4 linked regions of the Homo sapiens genome follow. The protein of the gene in region 1 purifies or fractionates together with the protein of each later gene. This does not show direct contact. Each region holds a gene or a part of one and is shown in the gene's direction. Other genes may lie near its edges.

What was found.
Region 2: the proteins of ACSM5 (region 1) and PDPR purify together in Homo sapiens (affinity purification with mass spectrometry; 2 studies listed by BioGRID and IntAct, with this or other methods). This does not show direct contact.
Region 3: the proteins of ACSM5 (region 1) and PCCA purify together in Homo sapiens (affinity purification with mass spectrometry; 2 studies listed by BioGRID and IntAct, with this or other methods). This does not show direct contact.
Region 4: the proteins of ACSM5 (region 1) and CPS1 purify together in Homo sapiens (affinity purification with mass spectrometry; 2 studies listed by BioGRID and IntAct, with this or other methods). This does not show direct contact.

What each region holds. Positions count from the first base shown.
Region 1 is NC_000016.10:20,405,057-20,412,557, forward strand, and holds the start of ACSM5 (acyl-coenzyme A synthetase ACSM5, mitochondrial), read left to right. Parts: upstream 1-4,477; 5' UTR 4,478-4,609; intron 4,610-6,413; 5' UTR 6,414-6,428; coding exon 6,429-6,632; intron 6,633-7,501. UniProt on the Homo sapiens protein: Catalyzes the activation of fatty acids by CoA to produce an acyl-CoA, the first step in fatty acid metabolism.
Region 2 is NC_000016.10:70,117,320-70,124,343, forward strand, and holds part of PDPR (pyruvate dehydrogenase phosphatase regulatory subunit, mitochondrial isoform 1 precursor), read left to right. Parts: intron 1-167; exon of another isoform or gene 168-1,776; intron 1,777-3,141; 5' UTR 3,142-3,173; coding exon 3,174-3,400; intron 3,401-7,024. UniProt on the Homo sapiens protein: Decreases the sensitivity of PDP1 to magnesium ions, and this inhibition is reversed by the polyamine spermine.
Region 3 is NC_000013.11:100,092,079-100,099,102, forward strand, and holds part of PCCA (propionyl-CoA carboxylase alpha chain, mitochondrial isoform a precursor), read left to right. Parts: intron 1-7,024. UniProt on the Homo sapiens protein: This is one of the 2 subunits of the biotin-dependent propionyl-CoA carboxylase (PCC), a mitochondrial enzyme involved in the catabolism of odd chain fatty acids, branched-chain amino acids isoleucine, threonine, methionine, and valine and other metabolites.
Region 4 is NC_000002.12:210,551,834-210,559,622, forward strand, and holds the start of CPS1 (carbamoyl-phosphate synthase [ammonia], mitochondrial isoform b precursor), read left to right. Parts: upstream 1-4,765; 5' UTR 4,766-4,885; coding exon of another isoform or gene 4,886-4,900; coding exon 4,901-5,026; intron 5,027-7,789. UniProt on the Homo sapiens protein: Involved in the urea cycle of ureotelic animals where the enzyme plays an important role in removing excess ammonia from the cell.

The sequences.
Region 1 (7,501 bases):
GAAGATAATTAATGATATGAAGAAAAATAAAACCTGGAAGGATGATGAGGAACGCCTGAGAGGGGGATGGGATAAAATAAGAGGATTTATGCAAAACGAGCAGCTCAGTACCTAGAAGGCAGGAGCCCCTCACGCATCACCACCCTGGCCTCATCTCCTAGGGGAGAAAGATCTCCACTCACCCTGCTCCAGCCACACTGGTGTCCCTGCCAGTCCTCCAATACAATGTCTGGGCCTCTACACTTGTGGTTTCCCCTGTTAGGGAGGCTCTTCACCCAGGTGGACTCAGGGTTCACCCCTTAGCTCGTTCCAGTCTTTGCCCAAATGTCACTTCCACAGTTGGGCCTTTCCTGGCCACTTTGTTTAAATTTGTAAGTGCCCCATCCCCCTCTCAGGCGTTCCTCATCCTCCTTCCAGGCTTTATTTTCCTTCATAGCATTAATTTTCTTCTAAACTCCACATAATTTACTTTGCTTACCTGGTGATAGGTGCTCAGTAAATATTTGTTGAATGAATAAAGAAAAGGCTGTTGATATTATTAGCATCGTTATTACTGTCAGAGTTTGCAGCCTTTGGCTATCTGCTGCCCAACTGTTATTAAATACTGATGGAGATGACTAACATTCATTTCACTAAATTTTAACATCTGTGGGTTTTAGTCCTAGCGCTTTGCTCTTCTCTTTCTTTTCTTTTTCTTTGAGACAGTGTAGTGGCGCGATCTCCACTCACTGTAGCCTTCACCTCCAGGGTTCAAGCGGTTCTCCTGCCTCAGCCTCCTGAGTAGCTGGGACTACAGGCATGCACCACCACGTCTGGCTAATTTTTGTATTTTTAGTAGAGACGGGGTTTCACCACATTGGCCAGGTCGGTCTCAAACTCCTGACCTCAAATGATCTGCCTGCCTCGGCCTCCCAAAGTGCTGGGATTACAGGCGTGAGCCACGGCATGCGGCCCCACTCTTCTCTTTCCATACTTAACTTCCATACTTTTGTTGGCTTGTTTAAATGCATGACTTCAAATACACCCCTTTATAAGTTACTCTCTCATTTACTCTCCAGGATTTGATCAATTGATTACATTTACTATTAAGACCGTTTTCCATCTGCCTATTAGAAAAGCTCTTTTTGGTTGAACCACACTCACTGAATATCTGAATGTCTTAATTTGAACTCATCATGTCCCTTTCAACTTTTCTTGGCAATTATTCCTTTTCTGGATGTTGTGTTTGCAAATAATTCCTGGGATGTGTTTGACTCTTTTTTCTCCCAGGCCTAAATCAACAATCTAGTCTGGCATATATTATTTTGACATCTTTCACACTTGTCAACTGTTAGTCACAAACTAAAACACTTGGGTTATTATCCCAAATGTCCTTCATTCATTTTCCTTCACTCTTGCACACAGTTGTTTCTTGACATAACATAGGCACTTTTATGATGATACTCATTTACTGATAAAGCTGCTGCTGCTTTTTTTTTTTTTGACAGAGTCTTGCTCTCTTGCCCAGGCTGGGGTGCAGTGGTGCAATCTTGGCTCACTGCAACCTCCGCCTCCTGAGTTCAAGTAATTCTCCTGCCTCAGCCTCCTGAGTAACTGGGATTACAGGCATGCACCACCACGGCCGGCTAATTTTTGTATTTTTAGTAGAGACGAGGTTTCACCATTTTGGCCAAACTGGTCTCAAACGCCTGACCTCAGGTGATCCACCTACCTCGGCCTCCCAAAGTGCTGGGATTACAGGCGTGAGCCACTGTGCCCGGCTTAAAGCTTCTTTTTATAAAATAACATTAATTTCTTTCTGATTAGAAAAGAACAGGATTTAATTTCTAAAACATAGAACATACAGAAAAAATGAGTTAATTGAAATCATACATCATCTTACTTAGAGAAACATTCATATTTTGTTACGTATGGGATTAATATATACTTTTTAAAAATAAAATTGTGATTATATTGTCTATAAAGTGTATCCAGTTCTTTCATTGAACATTTATGAAACATTTGTCATGACTTATGATTATATATTCTTCTAAAAAGTACTGATTGAGAGTAACGATATTGAGATTAGACTGCTGGAGAAATAATGTTCAACAGTCCGTCCACCCCTCTGAGGGTAGAGATTGTATCTTTACATCTGGCTGCAGATTCAGAGATGAGGTTGTATCCTGGGTCGCAGTAGAGGACTGAATGCTGAGCAAATGGACATTGAGGGCTCATAAGATGGTTCCCTGTGGCCAAGCTTGGCGGCAAGGGAGAGGAGCTGCCTGCGTGGAAATGGGCCAAACTGGCCAGGCCAGGAAATGAGACAGAGTCACAGGGGAACAACATACAGTGATGGATAAAAATCCAGGGTGAAGTTTGAATCACTGCAAAGATAGGCAGTTAATGGCTCAGCATCCTCTCTATAGGACACCCATAACCCTGTCATTTGCAACAACATGGATGGAACTGGAAGTCATTACATTAAGGGAAGTAAGCCAGGCATAGAAAGCAAACATTGCACATTCTCGCTTACCTGTGGGAGCTAAACAGGAAAACAAATGAACTCATGGAGACAGTAGAAGGACGGTTACCAGAGGCTGGAAAGTGTTGCAGGGAGTTGGAGGAGAAGTGGGGATGGTTAATGGGTACAAAAAAGTAGTAAGAGTGAATGAATAAGGCCTAGTATTTCCTAGCACAATAGGATGACTATCTTCAAAAATAATGTAACCATACACCTAAAATAACTACAATAGTATAAATGGATTGTTTGTAACACAAAGGATAAATGTTTGAGGTGATGGACACCCCATTTACCCTGATGTGATTCTAACGCATTGCATGCCTGTATCAAAATATCTCATGTAACCCATAAATGTATATACCTACTATGTACCCACAAAAATTAAAAATAATTTAAAAAGAACTTCAGAGAACAAACAACAAAAAGACCGGTATGGCTGGAGCAGACTGAGACAGGAGGTTTGAGGCGAAAGGCTCACAGGAATTCCTGTGGGGCCCTGTAGGCAATTGCCAGGACTTTTTTTTTTTTTTTGAGACGGAGTCTCACTCTGTCTCCCAGGCTGGAGTGCAGTGGCACGATCTCGGCTCACTGCAACCTGTGCCTCCCAGGTTCATGCCATTCTCCTGCCTCAGCCTCCAGAGTAGCTGGGACTACAGGCGCCCACCAGAGTAGCTGGGACTACAGGCGCCACCACGCCTGACTAATTTTTGTATTTTTAGTAGAGACAGGGTTTCGCCGTGTTAGTCAGGATGGTCTCAATCTTCAGACCTCGTGATCCGCCCGCCTTGGCCTCCCAAAGTGTTGGGATTACAGGCGTGAGCCATCCCACCCGGCAATCGTCAGGACTTTGGCTTGGACTGTGAGTGAGATAGGGAGTTGCAGGAAGCTTTTTCGAAAAACCACCTTTGGGCCAGGTGCAGTGGCTCCCACCTATAATCCCAGCACTTTGGGAGGCCAAAGCAGGCAGATCACTTAAGGTCAGGAATTTGAGACCAACCTGGCCAACATGTTGAAACCCCATCTCTACCAAAAAAATACAAAAATTAGCCAGGCATGGTGGTGCATGCCTATATTCCCCGCTACTCGGGAGGTTGAGGTGGGAGGATCGCTTGAACCCGGGAGGTGGAGGTTGCAGTGAGCCAAGATTGCGCCACTGCACTCCAGCCTGGGCGACAGAGCAAGAGCCTGTCTCCAAAAACAAACAAAAAAACCCAAAAAACTTCTTTTGGCAGTGTACAATTATTATTACTATTTTTTGTAGTAAATTTACAGAGATCTGCAGTCATGACCACAATCCAAATTTAGAACAATTCTATGACTTCAAAGGGATGCCTTAGAGCCGTTCCCTGGAACCACTCCTCTGTTCTCTCTGTATCTACTGGAGGGTTCTAAGCAGAAAAGAAACAAAGTCTGACTTATATTATTATCACTATTGCACCTTTTCTGTTAAAACATCATAATCCCAGCACTTTGGGAGGCCGAGGCGGGCGGATCACGAGGTCAGGAGATCGAGACCGTCCTGGCTAACACGGTGAAACCCCGTCTCTACTAAAAAATACAAAAAATTAGCCGGGCATGGTGGTGGGCGCCTGTAGTCCCAGCTACTCGGGAGCCTGAGGCAGGAGAATGGCGCAAACCCGGGAGGTAGAGCTTGGGGTGAGCCAAGATCGCGCCACTGCACTCCAGCCTGGGCCACAGAGGGAGACTCCGTCTCAAAACAAACAAACAAACAAAAAAAAAAACCCGTCATAATCTTCCTGTTGCTTTTTCCGATTAGATGGCGACTTGAATTTTTAGGGAATACATCCACCAGTTTGGGCACACCCACCAGGCACGACAGTTGAGGTCTGATCTTCCAGCCACTGTGAGTACTGAGAAAACTTGGCAGGGGGCCACTCTCACTGGCTCAATGCACCCTGACCACTGGAAGCCACTGTGTCAGCTGCTGGGTTCTGGCTCTGCCCACTCTTGGCTGCATTTGGGGCTGAAGTTCCCTGTGGGAGGCTGTTTTCTGAGGGAGCTGAGTGTTTACAGCCACTCAGCCCTGCTCTGCTCAGCTGAAGCAGAAAACAGAGACCTTTTGCATTACTTTGGTTCAAGAGCAAGGTAATTTGGAAAGAAATTTTTCAGACGAAGGTATCAGCTGCCTCTGAGGCCTTTGCTGATTAAATCAAGAAGTGACATCTGAAATGGTGTCGGGGAATGGGAAGGAGGCCTGGGGATTCTAAATTATCAGCTGTTTAGGTGGCTGAGGAATCCAGGGGTGGGAGACTGAGGAAAAGGACTGGGGCAGAGCTCAGTTCAGGAGAGGTGAGGGGCGGGAGAGGTGAGGGGCGGGAGAGGTGAGGGGCGGGAGAGGTGAGGGGCGGGAGAGGTGGGTCAGAGAAAGGAAGTCTCTGAGGCTGCAGGCCTAGGCCTGGTGGCCACTGCAGAGGCTGGGGCCTATGTTTTTCCAGGAAGTGAAACCTGAAAGTCACTTTTCCCCTTTAAGCCTCATTTTCTTTATCTTTAAATGGAGAAAATAACATTTACAGCATAGAGTTGTTATAAAGATTTCATGAAATAATGCCTCTAAGCACTCTTAAAATGCTTGGTACACAGTAGGCCTTCAATAGACTGAAGCTGTTATGGTTTTTCTTGTTGTGCCACGTTATTATTGTTGGTTGTTATTACCATATTTTGTTATTATTATTACTAAGAGGAATTTAATGCAAGGAAACTGAAACTGAGGTCACACGCAGCTCCCGGGCCAGTGCCTCTCAAACTTTAACATGCATATGACTCATCTGAAGATCCCGTTAACTTGCAGATTCTAATTCTACATATGTAGGGTGGGGTCCCATCTGCTGGTCCCAAGATCACACTTTGAGTAGCAAGACACTAAAACTGGGCTGGGCACAGTGGCTCACATCTGTAATCCCAGCACTTGGGAGGCCGAGTTGGGAGGATCACTTGAGGCCAGGGGTTCAAGCCCTGCCTGGGCAACATAGTGAGATCCTGTTTCTACAAAAAAACTTTTTAAAAGTTAGCCACACATGGTGGCTAGTGCCTGTAGTCCCAGCTACTAGGAAGCCTGGGGTGGAAGGACTGCTTGAGTTTGAGGCTGCAGTGAGCTATGATGGCACCACCGTACTCTAGCCTGGGCAGCAGAGTGAGACTCTGTCTCAAAAACAACAATAATAAAAATTTTAAAAATAATAAAATTAAATAAAAAAATTAAAAAGACACTAAAAGCCCATCATGCCATACAGCAGCCACTTGTGGCTTTTGAGCACTTGAAGTGTGGCTAGTCCAAATTGACATGTGTTTGTAAGGGTAAAGTCTATTTCAGATTGTGAGGACTTAGTACCAAAAAAAACAAAAAATAAATAAAAGTATGTAAAATATCTCTTTAACAATTTATTCTTCTATTGACTAGGAATTGAAATGGTCATACTTTGGCTCTATCTGGTTAAATAAAATGTTTTATTATAATAAATCTCACCTGCTTCTACTTTTCTTAATGGAAGTACTAGAACATTGTAAATTGCACAGGTGGCTCACGTTCTATTTCTGTTGGACAGTGCTGCCCTAGAGCTGTCTTCAGCTTTGCAAGGTCAGTTCAGGATTGGCCAAAGCCTTTTTGAGGGATTCCTTTTGAAGTATTGAGGTTTGAGAAGTGGGATCTGAGTTCTGACCTCAGACCCAGATACCCACAAGTCAGTGAGAGGTCAAAAGGACAGACCTCGGGGTCAGAGGAGAGAAATGACCATCACACAGCAGAACTGAGACTGAAGGTGGAGAGTTTATTCTACAAGTCAGTAAGGATCACAGTCACCATCAGCACTAACCACAGGTTTCTCCTAACCTATGTGTTGTCCCCAAAGCCCAGAATTTATGACAATGCCCTCTTTCCTCTCTTTGGTGACAGACAGGAGGCGACTGCATGAGACCATGGCTGAGACACCTAGTCCTCCAGGCACTGAGGAACTCCAGGGCATTCTGTGGGTCTCATGGGAAGCCAGCACCTCTACCTGTTCCTCAGAAGATCGTGGCCACCTGGGAAGCCATCAGCCTGGGAAGGCAGCTGGTGCCTGAGTACTTCAACTTCGCCCATGATGTGCTGGATGTGTGGAGTCGGCTGGAAGAGGTGAAGCCTGTTCTGTCCTAGAGTCCATCTGGGGCATCTGAGGCTGCCCTCATGTACCACAATGAGACTCAAGGCTCCAAGCATGTTGATGAGGAAATTTGGACCTGGGAATTTTGCTAGTTCTAAAATGTAAACTGTTGGCATTTGAGACTTAGGAAAAAATTCTGAGTCAGTGTTGTGAGCCTTAGACATGCTTGTTCCTTCTCTGAAGTGTCCTGCATTCTTGAGCCCAAATCACACAGTGAGACAGTTATGTCCCTTCCGATTCCCTTCCAGTTGTTCATCAACTGAAGGAGGAAGTTTTGTTTTGCTGCTACTCTGTCTTTGATGTTTTTCTCTCACTGTCACGCCCTTCTCTTCTAAATAAGGAAAGAAGGCCGGGCGCGGTGGCTCATGACCATAATCCCAGCACTTTGGGACACCGAGAAGGGCAGATCACCTGAGGTCAGGAGTTCGAGACCACCCTCACCAACATGGTGAAACTCCGTCTCTACTAAAAATAAAATAAAAAAAAATTACCCAGGCATGGTGGCGCACACCTGTAGTCCCAGCTACTTTGGAGGCTGAAGCATGAGAATTGCTTGAACTCGGGAGGCAGAGGTTGCAGTGAGCCAAGATCATGCCACTGCACTCCAGCCTAGACAACAGAGTGAGACTCCACCTCAAAAAATAAAATAAAATACAACAAAACAAAATAAAATAAGGAAAGAATAGGGCTCAGGCTCAAAGCTTTTTGCAGATCATAACAGATACATAGAATTGAATAAGATAACCCTGATTTCTTTGTGTGTCTCTGTGCATCTGCTTTCTTCTTTATTTTCCCTTATATCTGTGTCTGTTGGGTCTCTCTATTTCATGGTTACCTTTTA
Region 2 (7,024 bases), about 50 Mb from region 1:
CTGGCTAACATGGTGAAACCCCGTCTCTCCTAAAAATTAAAAAAAAAAATTAGCCAGGCATGGTGGTGGGTGCCTGTAGTCCCAGCTACTCAGGAGGCTGAGGCAGGAGAATGGCATCAACCCAGGAGGCAGAGCTTGCAGTGAGCTGAGATCGCACCACTGCACTCCAGCCTGGGCGACAGAGCGAGACTCCATCTCAAAAAAAATAAATAAGATGTCAAAGAGGCTGTGACCTGAGGAGATTACCTGTATTTGGGGGAGAGGTGGCAGGAACCATGCCAGGAGGGAACAGCATGCACAGAACCTGGAGCCGAATAGAACACTCACGCCTCACCTGATATGTTTGACGAATTACAGGTTGTTCAGTCTGGTTTGGTCAGAGTGTGAGGAAAGGAGAAATGAGACCACAGATAAGAACCAGAGTGTGAAGGATCTTGCACTTGATATGAAAAGAGTTTTGCCTTTTTCCTGAGGGCATCAGAAAGTCATTAAGGTGGGTGTGGTGGTTCACGCCTATAATCCCAGCACTTTGGGAGGCCAAGGCCAGTGGATCACCTGAGGTCAGGAGTTCAAGACCAGCCTAATCAACATGGTGAAACCCTGTCTGTACTAAAAATACAAAAAGTAACTGGGCGTGGTGGCGCGTGCTTGTAGTTCCAGCTGTTCAGGAGGCCGAGGCAGGAGAATTGCTTGAACCTGGGATGCAGAGGTTGCAGTGAGCCGAGATCACACCGCTGCACTCCCAGCTGGGCGACAGAGTGAGACTCTGTCTCAAAAAAAAAAAAAAAATTGCTGAGGAAAAGCAGCAAAAAGGGAGGGAAACGTTGCAGGTACATGAAAGAGAGATAGCAGTTGATGGAGCTAGGGTCAAGAGAAGAGAGGAGGAAGTGGGATCCAGGGCCCTTGGGGGAGATTAACTTTCCAGTGGATAAAAGAAGGAAGGAAGAGATGGTTGCAGATGCAAGTGGGTCTATAGGAAGGGTTTCAGGGAATGAGATGAGCCAGGTTATCTGCTTAGAATGAGGGAAGAAAGGAGGTGAAATTGAAGGTTGAGAGAGGAATAGCTGGGCTCTGAACCTGAATACAGACAGAGGTCTGCCTGTGGCTTAACATGTGCTAGCCTAAGCCACCAAGGAGCAGGACAGTTTTCAAGTATAACCGAGTGGTCACGGGTCAGAAGCCAGGAGGTTGACAGTGAGGTCAATGGGACGGGGCTGGCCATTTGGCAGCAGCAGTTCCCCAGGAGAGCTGTGTTGCCATTGGGACAGAGGGTAGAGAGAATGTCAGCAAAGGGGTGGGTGTTTACCTTTGGGAAAGGTATTCTGGAGGGTGCAGTAGAGGGGCTTGAAGGAGAGGAAAGCAAAGAGAGCTTGGGCCACGGGAAATAAATTGGTCACGTGGAGATGAGATTATGGAAAGACTAGCCGGGTAGAGAAGCTTCTGTTTTGAGATGGTGCTTAACAGGGACCAGGGATGAGAGGCATGGTGGCAACCACAAGGTGGCCAAGACAATTTGTCTCCAGTTGGATGGGATGTCTGCCTGGACACAGTCTGTGCTTGCATTGGTTGCAATTCTGAGAGTCATCTCTGATGGATGGACATAGATACCTTGGCCTTGGACAATTTGTGCTGACTGTGGAGCATCTGTGGGTCCTGTGGCTGGCAGTGGAGGCGGTAAGGAGATGACTAGCAGTGAGCTACCCTAAGGCCCCCTTGTCTACCGCCTCTCGTCTCAAAGTCCTCATCCTCCTGTACACATGACTGCATGGACAGCCAGTAGGTGCTTTCTTCTTCAGTTTCTTGAAACTTGAACAGTCATCTGTTTTGCTGATAGATTAAGTTTGTTAAAACCCTGCCTTGTCCAAGGGCAGTGGTTCATGCCTGTAATCTCAACACTTTGGGAGACCAAGGTGGGAGGATCACTTGAGCCTAGGAAGTCAACTCTGTTTTTCTTATAATTCTACCATCCGCTCTCCACCATGGAGCCAGACTGACCTTTGGAAAACATCCCCCAACCCCCCACCGCCAAAAAAAACAAAGAAAAGAAAAACATCCCAGATCATTTCATTCCCCTGCTAGTGATACTCCCGCATGAGTGATTTTCCTTTGTACTTTGAATAAAATTCCAACTCCTGCTGATGGCACCCAAGGGCTGTGTGTAACTGGCTTCCGCCTGCCTCTCCAGCATTGTCTTAGATCATCTCCCCACACTCCCCGTGTCGTGTACATGCCGGCCTCCTTTTTGTTCTTGGTCTGTCTTACCTCAGGGCTTTTGCACATGCTCGTCTCAGTGTCTGCCAAATGTATAGCTCGTTCCTTATCCTTCAGGTCTGTTTCCAAATGTCACTTCCTTGGAGGCTGTTTCTGACCATCCTGTTTTAAATATGCCCCTAGTTACTCTATCATGTTAGCTTTATTTACTGTTTTATTTGTATGTTTATTTGTATATTGATTGGTGTTCTCCTCATTCACACACGCAAACTCTCAAATGTAAATTTCATAAAGACAGGGACTTCCCCATTCTTGTTCACTGCTAGCAGAATATCTGAAACTCAGAATGCCCTCAAATATTTCTTTTTTTGTTTTTTTTTTGTTTGTTTGTTTGTTTTTTTTTTGAGACGGAGTCTCGCTCTGTCGCCCAGGCTGGAGTGCGGTGGCGCGATCTCTGCTCGCTGCAGCCTCCGCCTCCCGGGTTCAAGCAATTCTCCTGCCTCAGCCTCCTGAGTAGCTGGGATTACAGGCACCTGCCACCATGCCCAGCTAATTTTTGTGTTTTTAGTAGAGACAGGGTTTCACCATGTTGGTAAGACTGGTCTCGAACCCCTGACCTCGTTATCCACTCGCCGCGGCCTCCCAAAGTGCTGGGATTACAGGTGTGAGCCACTGCGCCCAGCCTAAGTTTTTGAATTTTTAGTAGAGACGGGGTTTCACTGTGTTAGCCAGGATGGTCTCGATCTCCTGACCTCGTGATCCGCCCGCCTTGGCCTCCCAGAGTGCTGGGATTACAGGTGTGAGGCACCATGCCCAGCCACCCTCAAATATTTGCTGAATGAATGGCTATCGTTCTTTGTCAAATCCCTTTCTCATTAATCCCATGCACTGAGTAGAATGGCATGAAATATGTTTGGTTTCTCTGTCTAGTTTGAGTTCCTGAGATCTAGTTGGTGAGAGACATGATGTTCTACCGGTTGCTGTCGATTGTTGGAAGACAAAGAGCCAGCCCAGGATGGCAGAACTGGTCCTCTGCAAGAAACAGCACGTCAGCTGCCGAGGCGCGTTCCATGGCCCTGCCCACCCAGGCACAGGTGGTCATCTGTGGAGGTGGAATCACGGGCACTTCTGTGGCCTATCACCTCTCCAAAATGGGGTGGAAGGATATTGTCCTTTTGGAGCAGGGCAGGTAAGGATCAGACTGCATTTGGCTCATGGCTGTGCTGCACTAATCGTATAAGATTCCCTCTCCTTTCAGAGATACTGCCCCACCAGTAGCTAATCTAAATGTTGCTAAGTAGCATGAGAAGAAGCAAGGTGGAATCTCCTGAATTTTGTTTAAGGATGACTAATAATGCTCATGTTCTCTGGTTTTTAGAGAGTTGGCAAATTTCGTTTTCCTTTTTTTTTTTTTTTTTTTTTTTTTTGGTGGTGGTGTTTTGGTAGACAGGATCTCGCTTTCTTACCCAGGCTGAGCTTGAATTCCTGGCCTCAAGCAGTCCTCCCACCTTGGCCTCCCAAAGTGCTGGGACTACAGGCATGACCCACTGTACCCAGCAACATTTTAGACTTTGACAAAAATTTGCGTTTGTAAATAATGTGGATTGCATTTAAGCAAAGTAGACAACTGCTTGTGTTTGCTTAATTGCTAGGTTCTTAATATTGTTCTCATTCCCCAAGAGAAATATGCTCTATAGGCTTAGTTTCTCTGTGCTCGCCTTCTTTTAGGTCAAGTATTTTCTGCTTTATTGGCTTGTAAGCTAAGTCCCTTTATATTAATTTGTAATAGTTACAGAGATTACAGAATGGATTCTTATAATCCATCATTAATTAATATTATACCACTATACAAGTAATGTTAGATTCATACAACAATATTGGCCGGGCATGGTGGCTCACACTTGTAATCCCAGCACTCTGGGAGGCTGAGGTGGGCAGATCACCTCAGGTCAGGAGTTCTAGACCAGCCTGGCCAACATGGTGAAAACCTGTCTCTGCTAAACATACAAAAATTAGCTGGGCGTGGTGGTGTGCACCTGTAATCCCAGCTACTCAGCAGGCTGAGGCAGGAGAATCGCTTGAATCCGTGAGGCGGAGGTGGCAGTGAGCAGAGATCATGCCACTGCACGCTAGCCTGGGTGACAGAGCGAGACTGTCTCAAAAAAAAAAAAAAAGAATACAGGCCTTTGACTCTGATAATTCTCAACCTGTGTTTAGCTAATGTTTTCTTATTCCCTTTTTTTTTTTTTTTTAAGATGGGGTCTTGCTGTGTCACCCAAGCTGGAGTGCAGTCACACTATCACAGCTGACTGTAGCCTTGACCTCGTGGATTCAAGCAGTCCTTCTGCCATAGCCTTCCAAGTAGCTGGGACTACTGACATGCACCACCACATCTGGCTGGTTGTTGTATTTTTCTGTAGAGATGGGATCTCCCTGTGTTGCCTAGGCTGTTTTCTTTTCTTTCTTTTTTTTTTGAAATGGAGTCTGGCTCTGTCACCCAGGCTGGAGTGCAGTGGTGCAATTTCTGCTCACTGCAACCTCCGCCTCCTGGGTTCAAGCAATTCTCCTGCCTCAGCCTCCCGAGTTGCTGGGATTACAGGCACCCACCACCATGCCCGGCTAATTTCTGTTTTTTTAGTAGAGACAGGATTTCACCGTGTTAGCCAGGCTGGTCTTGGACTCCTGACCTCCAGTGATCTACCCACCTTGGCCTCCCAAAGTACTGGGATTACAGGCGCGAGCCACCACACCTGGCCTAGGCTGTTGTCTTGTGATCAGACTTGGGTTAGAGACTTTTATAACCATCACTGTATTGAGATACAATTTGCATACCATGCCACTCATCCTTGTTAAGTGCTGAAATCTGTTTACAGAGTTGTGCATCCATCATCATAACCAGGTCATACATTTTTGGCAGTAAGACCACAGAAATTAGGCTGGACTCTCAGCAGTGCACCACATCAGGAGGTGTATGGCTGTCCTGTCTCACTTCTGGTGGTGATAAACCTGGTCACTCAGTTACATTGGTGTCCTCCAAGCATCTCTAGCACAGAGACCCTGTTTTCTCCCCTTGTAATGGGCCAGTGCCCTTTGAGGAGAGATGGATTCTGAGATTATGCCAATATCCTGTTCATATGAGACCTCCACCTACCGGGCTTAGCATCCATTGACAACTGTTGCCTGAGTCAGCCACCACCGTGATGGTTGACAAATGGTGATTTTTTGATCATACTTCTACATTTATTATAGTTGGCATATTACTGTCAGGAAGAGATTTCCTTCTCCCCCATTTATTTACTCAGTTATATATCTGTATACACACATACACACACACACACCAGTTTAGACTCATGGATTTCTATTTTATGCAGTGGATAGTTTTTTTTTTGAGACAGAGTCTTGCTTTGTCACCCAGGCTGGAGTGCAGTGACGTGATCTCGGCTCACTGCAACCTGTGCCTCCCGGATTCCAGTGATTCTCCTGCCCCAGGCTCCCAAGTAGCTGGGATTAATAGTTGCATGCCACCACACCTGGCTAATTCTTGTATTTTTAGTATAGATGGGGTTTCACCATGTTGGCCAGGCAGGTCTTGAACTCCTGACCTCAGCTGATCCACCCGCCTCAGCCTCCCAAAGTGCTGGGATTACAGGCATGAGCCACCGTGCCCGGCCCGCAGTGGATACTTTTAAGAGCAAAAGTGGGTTTTGTTTTTGTTAATGTTTTTGAGACAGAGTCTCACGCTGTCACTCAGGCTGGAGTGCAGTGGTTCAATCTCAGCTCACTACAACCTCTGCCTCCTGGGCTCAAGTGATCCTCCCACCACAGCCTCCTGAGTAGCTGGGACTACAGGCATGCACTACCATGCCTGGCTAATTTTTTGTTTTTTTGGTAGAGACGTGATTTCACCTTGTTGTCCAGGCTGGCCTCAAACTCCTGGGCTCAAGTGATCCGCCCACCTCAACCTCCCAAAGTACTGGGGTTACAGGTGTGGGCCGCCACACTTGGCCTCATAATGCTTCCTTGATGTCAAAGTCTTTCTCCTATTTTTTGAAATCCTTTTAAATTTAATTATCAGGTATTTCCACAAAAAGTGATAAACTAATCGCAGTGTAAATGTTTCTAAGTGGGAGACCCTAGGGAGGTTCATTTTTGGTTTAATTTGTTGCTTCAAGATTATATAATACCTTAGAATTGATATAAGGCAGACTATTTAAACCTCACACTTAAAAATAATTACGCCAGCCAGGCACGATCGCTCACACCTGTAATCCCAGGACTTTGGGAGGCCAAGGTGAGTGGATCACCGGAGATCAGGAGTTCGAGACCAGCTTGGCCAACATGGTGAAACGCCGTCTCTACTAAAAAATACAGAAATTAACTGGGAGTGGTTATTCGCGTCTGTTAATCTCAGCTACTCGGGAGGCTGAGGTAGGAAAATCACTTGAATCCAGGAGGCGGAGGATGCAGTGAGCCAAGATCGCACCATTGCACCCCAGCCTGGGCGACAGAGCAAGACTCAGTCTCAAAAAAAAAAAAAAAAATTATGCCTCGGCCAAGTGCAGTGGCTCATGCCTGTTATCCCACGACTTTGGGAGGCCAAGGTGGGTGGATCACCTGAGGTCGGGAGTTCAAGACCAGCCTGCCCAACATGGGGAAACCCCGTCTCTACTAAAAATGCAAAAATTAGCTGGGCGTGGTGGCATAAGCCTGTAATTGTAGCTACTCAGGAGGCTGAGGCAGGAGAATTGCTTGAACCTGGGAGGCAGAGATTGCAGTGAGCCAAGTTTGTGCCACTGCCCTCCAGCCTGGGCAA
Region 3 (7,024 bases), on another chromosome or scaffold:
ACCGGCTAATTTTTTTTTGTATTTTAGTAGAGATGGGGTTTCACCATGTTGGCCACCTCGATCTTCTGACCTCTTGATCCACTGCCTTGGCCTCCCAAAGTGCTTGGAATTACAGGCATGAGCCACCGAGCCCAATGGTGTGATTTTTCATATATCTTTTATCCTTATAACAACTAGGTAAAAAATCCCAATTTTACAGTAGAGGAAACAAAGCTCAGGGCAGTTAAGTAGTTGCTTAAAAGCACAATTGGCTGAAGTAGAATTTGAACCTTAGATAATATGATTCTGAAGGCTTTCTTTTCTTTCTTCCTTTTTTTTTTTTGAGATGGGGTCTGGCTCTGTTGGCCAGGCTGGAGTGCAGTGGCATGATCTTGGCCTACTGCAGCCTCTGCCTCCTGGGCTCAAGCCATCCTCCCATCTCAGCCTCCCAAGTAGGTGGGACCACAGGCACGTACGACCACACCTGGCTATTTTTTAATTTTAATTTTTATTTTTTGTAGAGATGGGGTTTTGCTATGTTGCCCAGGCTGGTCTCAAACTCCTGAACTCAAGCAATCCACCCACCTCAGCTTGCTTTTCTAATTACAAATTGTCTCATTTGAATCATGGTCTCATTGTGTGATGCATTCATGAAATTTGAATGTTTAAGCCCTGTGTTACTTGACATCCATTATTTTCTTTTGTAATCAGTAAATATGGAAAAGAATGTTTAGGCTTATATGAATGCTTTAGAATTGCCTGGAGGTTAATGTTTCCAACATGCTGATAAATTTCTGACAAATCATTTGGGAAAAGAAATTTCTGAGATTATTACAGAAACTAGTTTCTGGTGTAAAAAAATGTTTATAGACATTTATATATTTATACATCTACCATTTGGATTTTATTCTGTTCCTGAGAGGTTCAGAACAGAGGTAAAAACTGCTCTAGTCCTTTTCTAAGAGGAAAAGATGTGACATTTTTGATGAAGAGTGAGGGAAAAGGATTTGTTTAAATGATTCCAAACTTTAAAAAATGTAGGTGGGAGAACAAGGATGAAAAAGGAATTTGGGAAGAAACACTTTTTTGGTGGGGCTGGAAACATAGTGTTTCATTGTAGGTATCTGGAGTTAGATGCCCGCAGGAGCCATGCTGAGGTGCTGGGTATCAGTGGCTGGCTTTTGGGCCAGGGATACGAGGCTAGAGTTAGAGTTAGAACTGTGAGCCCTGACGGATATAGTGAGTCAGTTAATATTTAATTGAATAAATGCTTCGTTTTATAACCCTAAATTAGGATTTGGAAGAAGGAAGAAGAGACAAGAGGAGTTAGAGGTATGGTTTGAGAGGAGCCAATGTAGTGTAGTGTTACCAAACCTAGGAAAGAAATTTCAAGAAGTAGTTAGCATTCATTCATTCATTTGTCTAGAGATCTAGCTCTTTACTCAGAAAGTGTTTGTGGAGCATTTTCTAAGTTCCAGGTACTATGGCACGTACAGAGGAGAGAAAAAGAAATTAAAACATATTCCCTAACTATGTCCCAGGTGCAGAGAGGCTAAGGAATAAAAGATTGATGAGGCCAGGTGTGGTAGCTCACGCCTGCAATCTCAACCCTTTGGGAGGCCAAAGTGGGAGGATTTCTTGAGCTCAGGAGTTTGAGACCAGCCTAGGCAACATAATGATACCACCCCCACCCCCGGCTATCTCTACAAAATAAAATAAAATAAAATAAAAATTAGCTGGGTGTGGTGGCACGTGCCTGTGGTTCTAGGTACTTGGGAGGCTGAGGAGGGAGGATCACTTGAGCCCAGGAGGTCAAGGCTGCAGTGAGCTGTGATCACACCAATGTACTACAGCCTGGGTGACACAGCAAGACCCTGTCTCAAAAAAAAGTCTGGGCACGATGGCTCATGCCTGTAATCCCAGCACTTTGGGAGGCCGAGGCAGGCAGATCACCTGAGGTCGGGAGTTCAAGACCAGCCTGACCAACATGGAGAAATCCCGTCTCTACTAAAAATACAAAATTAGCCGGGCATGGTGGCGCATGCCTGTAATCTCAGCTACTTGGGAGGCTGAGGCAGGAGAATCACTTGAACCCAGGAGGTGGAGGTTGCAGTGAGCCGAGATTGCACCACTGCACTCCAGCCTGGGCAACAAGAGCGAAAATCTGTCTCAAAAAAAAAAAAAAAAAAAAAAGATTGGTGAAAGAATTTGAAAAGATCTTTGATCTTTAATGAGAATAATTTTAGTAGCATGGTAAAGTGTTATATACAAAAAATACTGCTTTTGACAACACTCTTGAATAGTTGAAGCAAAATTATATTTTTTGAAAGATAAGCATATTGCATAACTTTCAAAAATTAGTTTCTTTATTTTAAATGCCTATTGACATTTTCGTTAGAAAAAACCCCACAAACTGATGGGATCAACCTAATAAGATCAAAATAAAAGTGAATTTAAAGAATGTTGGAAGATACAGTTTTGTGATTTCATTCACAAAACCTAATACAGCATCCATGTGGCATACTCTCTTTGGTATTGTTTGTTTGTTTTTGAGATAGAGTCTCATGTTGTCCAGGCTGGAGTTCAGTGGTGTGATCTCCGCTCACGGCAACCTCCGCCTCCGGGGTTCAAGTGATTCTCCTGCCTCAGCCTCCTGAGTAGCTGGGATTACAGGCATGTGCCACCATGCCCAGCTAATTTTTATATTTTTAGTAGAGACGGGGTTTCACCATGTCGGCCTGGCTGGTCTTGAACTCTTGACCTCAATTGATCCGCCTGCCTCGGCCTCCCAAAGTGCTGGGATTACAGATGTGAGCCACCGTGCCTGCCCTCTCTTTGGTATTATTTATTCAAGAAACCTTTGGTTTCCTAGAGCTGCTGTACAAATGACCATGGACCTGGTGGCTTAAAACAACAAATTCATTCTCCCACAGTACTAAAGGCCTGAAGTCTGAAATCAAGGCATGAGCAGGGCCATGCTTCGCCTGAAGGCTCTAGGGGAGAATCCTTTCTTGCCTCTTTGAGCTTCTGGTGGCTGCATTCATTCCTTGGCTTGTGGCTGCATCACTCCAGTCTCTGCCTCTGTCTTCACATGGCTGCCTTCTCCTCCTCCTTCTTGTGCGTCTTTCCCTCTCATTCTTTTATAAAGACACTTTTCATTGGATTTAGGGCCATGACAAGATCTAGGATGATTTCATCTCAAGATCCTTCACTTTGTTGTATTGGCAAAGACACTTTATCACAGGTTCCAGGACGTGGACACATCATTTTAGGGGCTATCGTTCAATTCACCTACACGTAGTATGTGTCAGACACTACTTAGAGCTGGGAATATAATTGTGACTGTTTCTGCTCCCATTGTGGTTACATTTGAGTAAGGAGACTGTGCTCGTATAAATAGAAAAGTTCAGAGAGTGAGAAGTGCTCTCGAAGGAAAAAGATAGGTTAATGGGATAGAGAGTGGTAGTGGTGCTGAGTTGGGGATGTTACCTAATGAGACCATGGGGGACATTTCTGAGCATGTGGCATTTGGACAGGAAACTGAGCCAGCCAGCCATGTGACTATATGGGGGCCTAGCATTGCAGACCAAGGAGTGCCAGGGCAAAAGCTCTGAGGGGAGATTGCATTTGGCATAATTAAGGGATGAATGTGGCTGCTGTGGTTGGAGTGAACTGAATGAGGGGGTGATCTTAGGAGATGAGGGAGGAGGAGTGGGTAGGCGGGACAGAGTCATCAGGGGCTTGTATTTGGAATTTAGTAATGAGAGTCCAGTTGGAGGCATTTAAGCACATTGAATTTATGTTTGGAAAAGACGTTTGTGACTAGTACGTAGCGAATGTCTTAGTAGGGGTGGGAGTAGGATTGGGGACTGGGGTGGGAAGAGTGGAAACAGAGAGACCCATCAGGAAGCTGTTGTAGAAGACCAAGCTAGAGATGATGGTAACTTGTGCTAGGGCACTGGAGTTGCTGAGAACTGGTCAGACTTGGAATGTATTTTGGAGCTAGAGCCAGTATCTTGCTGTGGGGTTTGAAGGCAGATACAGATGTACCTCATATCTTGGCTTTATTGACCCTGCAGATACTGCTTTTTTTTTGTTGTTTTTACAGATTGAGGGTTTGTGGCAACCCTGCTTTGAGCAACTGTATTGGTGTCATCTTTCCAATAGCACATACTTACTTGGTGTCTCTGTGAAACATTTTGATAATTTTTTCATTATTACTATGTCTGTTATGGTGATCTGTGATCAGTGATCTTCGATATTCTTATTGTAAATATTTTGGGGTGCCGTGAACCACGCCCATATAAGTTGGAGAAACATAATTGATAAATGTGTGAGTTTTGACTTCTCCAAGCAGTTATTCCCCTATGTCTCTCCCTCTCCTCAGGCTTCCCTAATTCTCTGAGATACAACAATATTGAAATTAGGCCAATTAATAATCTTCTAAGCGTTCTAGTGAAAGGAAGAGTCACACATCTCTCACTTTGAATCAAAAACTAGAAATCATTAAGCTTAGTGAGGAAGGCCTGTCAAAAGCCAAGATAGACTGAAAGTTGGGCCTCTTGTGCCAAATTGTAAATGCAAAGGAAAAGTTCTGGAAGGAAATTAGAAGTGCTACTCCAGTGAGCGCACAACTGATTAAAAAAAGTGAAACAGCTTTATTGCTGATATGGCGAAAGCTTTAGTGGTTTGGATAGAAGATCAAACCAGCCACAACATTTCCTTAAGCCATAGCCTAATCCAGCGCAAGGTCCTCGCTTCAGTTCTGCGAAGGCTGAGAGAGGTGAGGATGCTGCAGAAGAAAACTTGGAAGCAGAGGTTGGTTCATGGGGTTTAAGAAAAGAAGTGAGGCCGGGCGCAGTGGTTCACACCTGTAATCCCAGTACTTTGGGAGGCCGAGGCGAGTGGATCACAAGGTCAAGAGATTGAGACCATTCTGGCTAACATGGTGAAGGATCAGATGATTGTTAGCATTTTTGAGCAATAACTGTTTTGAACAATAATTAATTGGACCTGAACCTACAGTATCTGTAAGGTATGTACAAACAGGGAAAGGAAGGAATTAAGAGTGACTTTTGAAGGGTAGACACACAAGGTCGCTATTGTGTGATTTTGTGTTTATATGCAGTCTCCAGAATAGACTGATCCATGAAGACAGAAAGTAGATTAGTGGTTGCCCAGGGCCTGGAGGAGAGGGGATGGGAGTGACTGCGAATAGTTAAGGGTTGTCTTTTTGGGGTGATAAAAAATGTCCTGGAATCAGTAGCCATCATGGTTCCATGCCTTGTGGATATACTAAAAACCACGGAGTTGTATACTTTTTTAAAAGGGTGAATTTTATGGTATGTGAATTACATCTCAATTAAAAAATAAAAGAATGGTCCGGGTGCAGTGGCTCACACCTGTAATCCCAGCACTTTGGGAGGCCGAGGCAGGTGGATCACCTGAGGTCGGGAGTTCGAGACCAGCCTGACCAACATGAAGAAACCCCATCTCTACTAAAAATACAAAATTAGCCAGGCATGGTGGCACATGCCTGTAATCCCAGCTACTCGGGAGGCTGAGACGGGAGAATTGCTTGAACCTGGGAGGCAGAGGTTGCAGTGAGCCAAGATGGCACCACTGCACTCCAGCCTGGCGACAGAGTGAGACTCCGTCTCAAAAAACAAACAAACACAAATCTTCGAATACTTATGTTAACAAAGTAAAGCAAAGAGGCCAAGGTGGGAGGATCACTTGAGGCCAGCAGTTCAAGACCAGCCTGGGGAAAATAGTGAGAACCCCCCAGCCGCCCAGTCTCTACAAAAAATAAAAAAATTAGTGGGGCATGGTGACATGCATCCATAGTCCCAGCTATTCAGGAGGCTGAGGTGGGAGGATTGCTTGAATGCAGGAGTTCAAGGCTGCAGTGAGCTATGATCCTATCACTACACTTCAGTCTGGGCAACATAGTGAGATCCTGTCTCAAAAAAAAAAAGTACAATGAAGCTAGGTGTGGTGGCAGGGATGTGTAGTCTCAGCTACTTAGGAGGCTGAGGTGGGAAGATCATTTAAGCCTAGGAGTTAGAGGCTGCCATGGGCTATAATTGTGCCTGTGAGTAGTCACTGCAGTCCAGCCTGGGCAAACATAGTGAGACCCCCATCTCTTAAAAAAACAAAAAAAGTAAAATAAGGTGAAATTAATATATTTTACTTAATATATTCAAATATTCAAAGTATTATTTGAATATGTAAATGTAAAAATTCACTAATGAGGTCTTTTACATTTTCTGGGTACTAAGTTTTCAAAATCCAGTGTGTAGTTTACTCTTAGAGCACATCTGAATGTGGCTCGTGGCTGCCATATTGGATGGAACAGCTCTAGGGCACAGATTGTGCTACTAATCAAGTCCCACCTTGAGGTGCTGGGACTGGCCTTTTGAATGCAGTGTTAGTCAGCCCTTGGCCAGGCAGGGTCGGGGGAGCTCTCAGGCTTGATGGAGAGCTGTATAGTTGAGGAACATGGTCGAGATGAGGGTGCAGGTGTGAGCCGTTAGTTGTCAACACAGCAGTTAGAGAGGATCTGAGTGGCCACTGACAACATCTGCTACAGCGGGATGGGGAAGAATGGCCTGGCGGAAGAGTCAAGGGTGGGATGATGGAGCTCTAGAGTTGACATGTATAGTTTCCTGGTGCTTGAGCTTAGTACAGAGGCAGAGCCCAGAGAATCTTGAGTCTTGAACATCTCTCTCAAATATTAGGTGTTCAACTTGGCTTTTGGCAGACACTGAAGATTGGAATGGTCTCTAAGATCCTGAAGACTAAATAGTCTATTTGAAAGAAAAGCTGTGCTTCCAGGAAAAAGCCAGACCTAATTAAGTGTCTTCAGAGAAGGGCATGGGCTCTGTTACAATGCATGATGAAATACCGTGTCATAATACATGGATAAGACCTTCACCTGGAATTTTAGAGATGAAGCAAGATGAAGTAAACTAATGTTTACTTTGACCTTGGTGAGATCATTTTATAGCTCCATTAACCCAGTTTTGAGGATAGTTTCTTCTTT
Region 4 (7,789 bases), on another chromosome or scaffold:
CATCTAACAACATGATATCTGTCTGTCATTTTCAATCCTTGACATATTGGGAAGGTTTTCAAACAACTTTAAGTCTTCTTCCTGGCCAAACTTTGAGGAATCCTCCTACCAGCTTGTCCTAGTTTCTGTGATAGGAGAAAATGTGTGCCTTTTACATGGGTACAATCCACACCACTTTCCCTCAGAGATGCCTTCTTCATCCATATCTTTAATTGTGACCGTGTTCCTTGTTATGATACTAAGGCTAATAAAAATCATAGAACTGAACCCAATTACTTCTACCTTTTATATTCTATTTTCACACATTTCTGGTCAAACACAAAACAGTAGAACTTTCTTCAGGGAGTTATTGCACCTCCTTTTACTCTGAATTTGTTTGCTCTCCAGTCATACCTTACTCCTTGCTTTAATGTATCTCTTCAAAAATAGACTTTATAGAATTATTGATTGCCAGGTTTTTTTTTTCATGACTCCTAAGCATCCTTATTTCCTCTCATGCTTAACTGATGTAATTTTATTTGTTCCTGCTTAAATAATCATCACTGATCAGGCAGGAATTAAGCACACAGCAATCCATTCATTCAGTCATTTTTCCAGAAGCATCTCTTGCATGCTTGCTATGTTAGAGACTTTTTGATAGATGCACCAACTTCTTAGAGTTGTTTCTGATTCATTACTTAGGAACATTTCAAGAGGGCAGTTGGAAGTCTCTGTACCTTCAAAGGAATTACTAACACCCTTATTTTCTCTTCATTCCAAAACCTAAGACCTTTATTCTCTAAGACATCCTGTTCTCATTTTTTTTTTCAATCTGTAGCAGGTCTTCCCTTGCTTATGTCAGTGGACTGTTTAAATGAAGAGTGGACTGTTTGAGAAGTGGACTGTTTAAATCAGTATAGACACAGGCTGTCAGTGTTTCTTTATGTTTCCTTTAAAGACATTTTCGTAATGATTAATATAAATGAGTTAATGGAAACAAAAATGTAAACAGTAGTTGATAAAAGAATAGTATCAATTAAAAACATACTGTGAAGTATTCAACTTCACCAGTGATTTAAAATAGAAATGAAAGCAAAATAATATTTTCTACAGCGGAGCAAATAAAATGAAAGATAATACATAATGTTGGTGAGGACATTTTTAAAGGGACACCCATATATTGCACTGGTATGTAGGTGAGTACACTCTCTTTGGAGAGAAATTTGTAAATAGTAATCAAATATGGCAATATTGACATGCATTGTAGCAGCAATGAAAATGGAATATTTTGTAATCATTTAAAGTAATGTTTTAAAAGAACTTTGTAATAACATCAAAATACATTTAACATAATATTGCCTCCAAAAAGCATTATGCAAGTCAATGGCAATTTTCAAAACTATGTTCTGAGCATTGACATAAATGCTAGAAGATAATACTTTAGTGTTAACAGAGATTATGTTTGTGTGGTGGGTTATTATCTATTATTCTGTATTTCCACATTTCTTTAAATATCAAATGAAAGTGAATACAACCTAGTACTTGACATTTTAACATTTTCAATACCAGATATGTCAATAAGGAATTCATAAAATAAAGTGCCCTGAGGGATTTCACAGGCTAAATGCTTCTATTTTTTAAAATGTATTAATAGAAAAGAAGACTAAATCTAAAAAAAAAAATTCATTTTATCAGAGAGTGACTCATAAGTTTAGAAAACCTTTGATGACCTGGCTCACAAAGAATGTACTTCCAAGTACACAGGGTCCCCAGCCTGATGTGTGTGCCTGCATTCATGCCTGTCACTCTGCTCAGCTGCGTGCAGACAGCTTATATGAAGGAGGACTGTGTACATGTGGTCAGAGAAGAAAAAAATGCTTATTTTTTAAAATGTTTTGAAAAATAATCTGTCCTAAAAGTGTAACATTTCCACTAAATTTTTTCATGTCTGACTTTAACATTCCCTACCAACCAACTCTTATAGCCTCAACTCCTTTGATCTATCCTAATGTAAACTCCCTCACTAATGTGTAATATATTTTTTTCCAGTTTGGTTATAGATTTCAGTCTAGCCTGAACACTCAAGTATGAAACTAGCCACTATTTTATTTATTGGCTGTTCCAACCTCCATTGTGGAATTATAATTGATGGATTTTCCAAGTCTCTAATTCAGAATATTTAATCAAATTTTCCAAAATTTCTGCCTTCTCCTCCTTCATTCTGATGACTAAAGACATGGACCATAAAATATATATACATATATACATACATATGTATATGTATGTATATACACATATATATATGTATGTATATATACATACATATATATATGTATATATACACACACATATACATATGTATGTATATATACACACACACATATATATATGTATGTATATATATACACACACATATATATATGTATGTATATATATACACACACATATATATATGTATGTATATATATACACACACACACCGTAGTTTGCAAGTCTGCATCTGGGACCCTTTACTGATAAAAATGAAAGCCCATTAAAACTCTCATGCCCACATTTCTCTCTAGACTTTAGAGTAGGAGAATTCTATCCTAGAATTGTTGATTGTTGACATTTCTATGGAAAAACATGTTTAATTCATCATGCTTTGTAGTCAACTGCTATAAATGGTGATGAAGTCTTTTCCTTGGTCAAGCTCTGGACTCCTCAGTACTTCCACTGTCATATTTGATTAAAACATAAGTGATGAAGGGAGGAAATATATTATAGTATTCATTGCATGGGTACCTTAGGGTAATGGGACTATGACTGATTTAAATTTATTTTGCATCCTAAAAAGTTTCCATTAGTGGGTGCAGCACACCAGCATGGCACATGTATACATATGTAACTAACCTGCACAATGTGCACATGTACCCTAAAACTTAAAGTATAATAATAAAAGAAAAAAAAACTTAAAAAGAAAAGTTTCCATAATGAGGATTGAGTTTATATCGTTTTCTTAATTAAGGAAAGACAACCCTCACTACACACACACACACACACACACACACACACATAAAAAGACAAGAGGTGAGATCAAGGCGTAAACTAGTATTGGACTAAGCCAGTAAGTACTGCTTCTCAGTCCTCAGTTCTCTAGGTTGGGAGTTTTCCTTTTGCTATTTTCATTCTCCTCCAATTCATTTTTCAATGATCTTCAACACAAATTTCGCCTTTATTTCTTGTTCAAAATACTTCCATGACTATTATGAATACTATTTATGGATGAAGGCTGAACATTTTAAGGCATACTAAGTCTCCCATGATATGGTACCTTTTCATTTTCCCATTCTATACCCTGCATCTAGGCTTTTAAAAAATATACCACATGACTTCATGCCTCTAGGCTATTGCTCATGCCACGGCATCCCTTCTGGGTTTTTTCCCCTCTTTATCTACTTGGTGAATTTGCATCCTTCAGTATAACACAGCTCAACATAATTCTATGCTTAAACTTTACTGAAAATGCACAAGGAACTTGATCTTTCTTTCTTATTTTCCCCATTTTATTTATTTTCCCATTGCATTTGGGCAACTTTCATGGCACCAGTTATTTTATTAATTATTTGTATAAACTAGTATGAGCCTATTTTGTTTAGCTTTCTATCACCAGGAGCCATGAAGCACTTTGAAATCAAATACTGTTTGTACTTGAATATATTAAGTAAGCGTGAGGACTTAAATTAAACTTTGTTCCTCTTTAAAAAAATCCTTACCCCAACTCTAGCACTGATTCTATGTTATTGAAGCTTACAATCTTTATGTCATTTTCTGTCATCTTTTCTGTTATGAGAAGACCTAGGTATGAGTCTATTGCCTTTATTCCTTGGCCTTCTTTGCAAGGGTATCAAAGAACACTGCTGCAGTACTTCCTGTTCTACATAGTCATGTGACTTAAGCAAGAGCATCTGCCAGCCAGTGAGGCCCCTTGAGAGCCTGGTTAAACATGGGACTGAAGGGTTAAGTGAATCACTTTTTATTCATGTTGAAATATGAATGCTGAAGTTTGGAAAATTTTATATATAACATTTTAATAACTAAAAAAACTTGACTTAGGAATAGTGCTTATATTAAAATCAGTGTTTGTCATTGTTTCATGAAGTTTTTACAAATCTAAGAGGCTTAAGAGGGATATAATAGTCCACTTTGCTTTAGTTGTGTTTTACTTGATATTACTGATTGCTTTAACTTTGAAACACAGAACAATGCTATAGTAAGAATGTAGTATACTACTCTATTAACCCAAAACATAATATAGATAGGTTTATTGTATATTTGTGGAGAAAAGTTTATTCTAACGTTCTTTTTACAAATAGTAAAAATGCTATTTGTAGGATGCTCTGATTTTTACTTTTTGTAAAAAGAACATTGTCTTTTTACCCCAACAGAAAATGGCAAGCGTTCAGCTTTCTTTGGGAATCCAAAATCTCTTATGAGGCATATTAGGTATCACATGTGACATAAGCAAAAGCCTGTGATCCTTAGCATGTTGGAAAGTTGCTACTCTTTAGGATAAGGTTGTCCATGATGTCTAGGTCATTCCATTCAGCTGCATAAACAATTCCTTTGATGGATGGCTGGTTTTCTACAACCCCAGCATTATTTTAGCAGGAGAAGGTAGTATTTGATGTGTTGCAATTTGTGTTACATGCCCATGGAACATCTCTGGACATTACCTCAGGAGGAGGGGTTAAGAGAAGGAGGAGCTGTGGCTGAAGACATTTAATGGCAGAATGAATGGAAATTCAAAGATCGCTGTGCAGTCAGCCTTAAACACTGACTGCACCCCTCCCAGATTTCTTTTACATTAACTAAAAAGTCTTATCACACAATCTCATAAAATTTATGTAATTTCATTTAATTTTAGCCACAAATCATCAAAATGACGAGGATTTTGACAGCTTTCAAAGTGGTGAGGACACTGAAGACTGGTTTTGGCTTTACCAATGTGACTGCACACCAAAAATGGAAATTTTCAAGACCTGGCATCAGGCTCCTTTCTGTCAAGGTAATACCCATATTGATTGTTTCTGATAAAATACTATGGGGTATAGTTTAGCAGTGAAGCAAAGGTGTCCCTTACAAGGCAAATACAGTTTTGAATGTAGCTCTGAAGTACTAATGTATTAATGTTTCCTTTACTGTGGAACCTACTGACTTAGCAAATGCTAATTTTTATCTTATCTGAGTAACATGACAGTAATTTTTACCCAACATAAAGAATGATGACAATTCTTGTGAACATGTAAAATGTAAGTACACTGCTTGAAAAAGAAACATCTTTTCTTTCATAGATAGCTTTCTGTGACTAGATACTATTGCTTACAGTTTGGATTTAAAAAATGGAGCTGCTTATATGTGTGTGAGCCACATTATGGTACACAGTGTGTTAAGGTCTGTTCTATAAATAGGGCTTACTGAAAAGTTCTCTTTTGAAATATCATTTAAACATTTTAAAAACATAATTAGAAAATATGTGTTTTTGAGATTTGCAGGTCATCATGTAGACACTGCTTTAGCTTTTTCCTTTTCCTTCTGGCTGTTTTTTTGGGCAGGCTAAACTTATTATTTTCATTTTGTAGAGTAATACATAGAGGCAGATAGCAGCTGATAATTCTGTCCCTCCACAGGTATCTATAATTGAGAGGGCAAGCCCAGGAAAGAAACATTAATTGCCCTTCTTCCTGCCCCCCAGCATTGAATTATGAAATTCCTGTAGGAACCTCTGCTCCTTCCTGCAACTTTATGAAGACGTTCATTATCAGAGAAGCCTGAAGTTACTCCATAGGAACTTTGCCAATGAAAATAATCTTTAGTGACTATAAGTTTAAGTAATTATATTAGCTTTAGATATATTGCTTCTTTAGCAGCAAAAGCTGTAAAATTTGAAATAGAAAAAACAAAAGAAAACCTCTGTCTGTTGATGTGAAAATGGGAACTCACAGTTTGGAGTGTTCTGCTTATACTTTGCATGCTCATTGAGTTGACTAAGCTTCTATTGTTTCAGTTGCTCAAGTCAGGATTCAGTGGGGTTTTGGTCCTGACACCTGCAAGGCCAAGGAATATTCATAGATTCCTGTGGCTGCCAGGGATAGGGATGGGAAAGGAATGGGAGTAAAAGAAAAGGAAGAGAGATGGAGACAGGGGGAGGGGAAGGGGAGAAGTGTGAGGGATGGGAGGGAGAGAGAGAGAGAAAGAGAGAGAAACTAGCTCAAGATCCCAGGAGAAAAGAGGAAATACATATAGTAGCCTTAGTGGTGTGTTAACAACTTCAGCCTTTAACATTGAGAAGATTCTAACAAGAGTATAGGAAATTACCATTTTAAATTAAGAAAACCAGAAAGGAAAATGTCTTTTATGTTGTTACATATTCCAATGTATCCAATTTTACTCTTTTTAAATGGACATCATGTTTTAAAGATAGTTAAAATCATTAGGATGTAGTTACATAATGGCCATAAAGGGCACTGGGAGCAGTCACTAAAGGTTAGTGGCATTATGTCTAGTTATATATATTTTCTTGAATTTAGCTTAATTATAGCAAAAGAATGGGAAAGGAGAATATTCTAAACTAACATCAAAGACATTGTAACTAGATGTAAACTATGAGAATTTATTGTTAGTAATACCTCAAGGTACTCATGTATCAGTTCAGAGAAAATCAATAGTAATGAAAGTTATCCCCTATGATTATATGTGCCATCTAATACTTCAAAGTTGGGTGACTTGGAATATCTTCTTCTCACTCTGTGAGAAGGTAGGTATGTAGGTAAGGATAGGTGCATCTTCATCAGACCCCAGAAACCGCGAAATTGAGTACTTACTTAAAATGGCACAGATATGATTGAAATTAGAATCCAATTCTCCAAGATCACAATAAGTGCTCCATACAACCACCACCACAATCACAACCACGACAAAATGGTCTAATTATGTGGATGGATTACTGTGAAAGCAGTTCTAGCTCATGGTGACAGATCTGTTTCAAGGGTCTGTCACAGTGCACAGCTAAGAATGACAAATTTGTAGGAGCACTAAGCCATCATTTCATGGTGTAAAAGCCATTACTCACACTCAATCATTACTGGCCAGAGTTTTGGAGGAATGCCAAGCACAAAAAATAGAAGTTCTTGAACTTCACAATAGTGAATTAAAATTCCATAGAACAGCCCAAGGGGACTTGTGTTATTATTCAGTTATTGTGAAATAGTCCTCTATCTACTTTTCTTCCTGCCTTCACTTTAAAAACTCAACTGTCTTAGAAAAATATATCCAAATTTACTATTTTTAGATGGACATCATATTTTAAAGATAGTTAAAATCATTAGGATGTAGTTACATAATGGTCAGTGAAGGGCACTGAGAACAGTCACTTTAAAGGTTAGTAGCATTATGTCCAGTTATAGATGGTAAATGGATTGGGAAAGACACCCTGTAGTCACATCTATAATCATTGCCCTGTAAATTGGGTTGCTTTTTCGACATATTTAGAGGTTTGCTTTTCCTCTCTCTTTGATGACAGAGACGGTGGGTTTGACGACAGCAATGACGCACTTATAATTTTATGTGGCCCTTCCCTGGGTATTTGTCAGCGGCTAATATTTATAGAGTGCTTTGCCAATCGGCACAGTTGTATTTTACTTACAGGAAAGAGGAAAGAATTTCAAGGTGCTCTATATTTTAAAGAAAGTTGATATCAAGGGTATAAATGATCAACAACCATAAAATACTAAATACTAAAAAGTTTTAGATACCATAATCTTTTTCCATT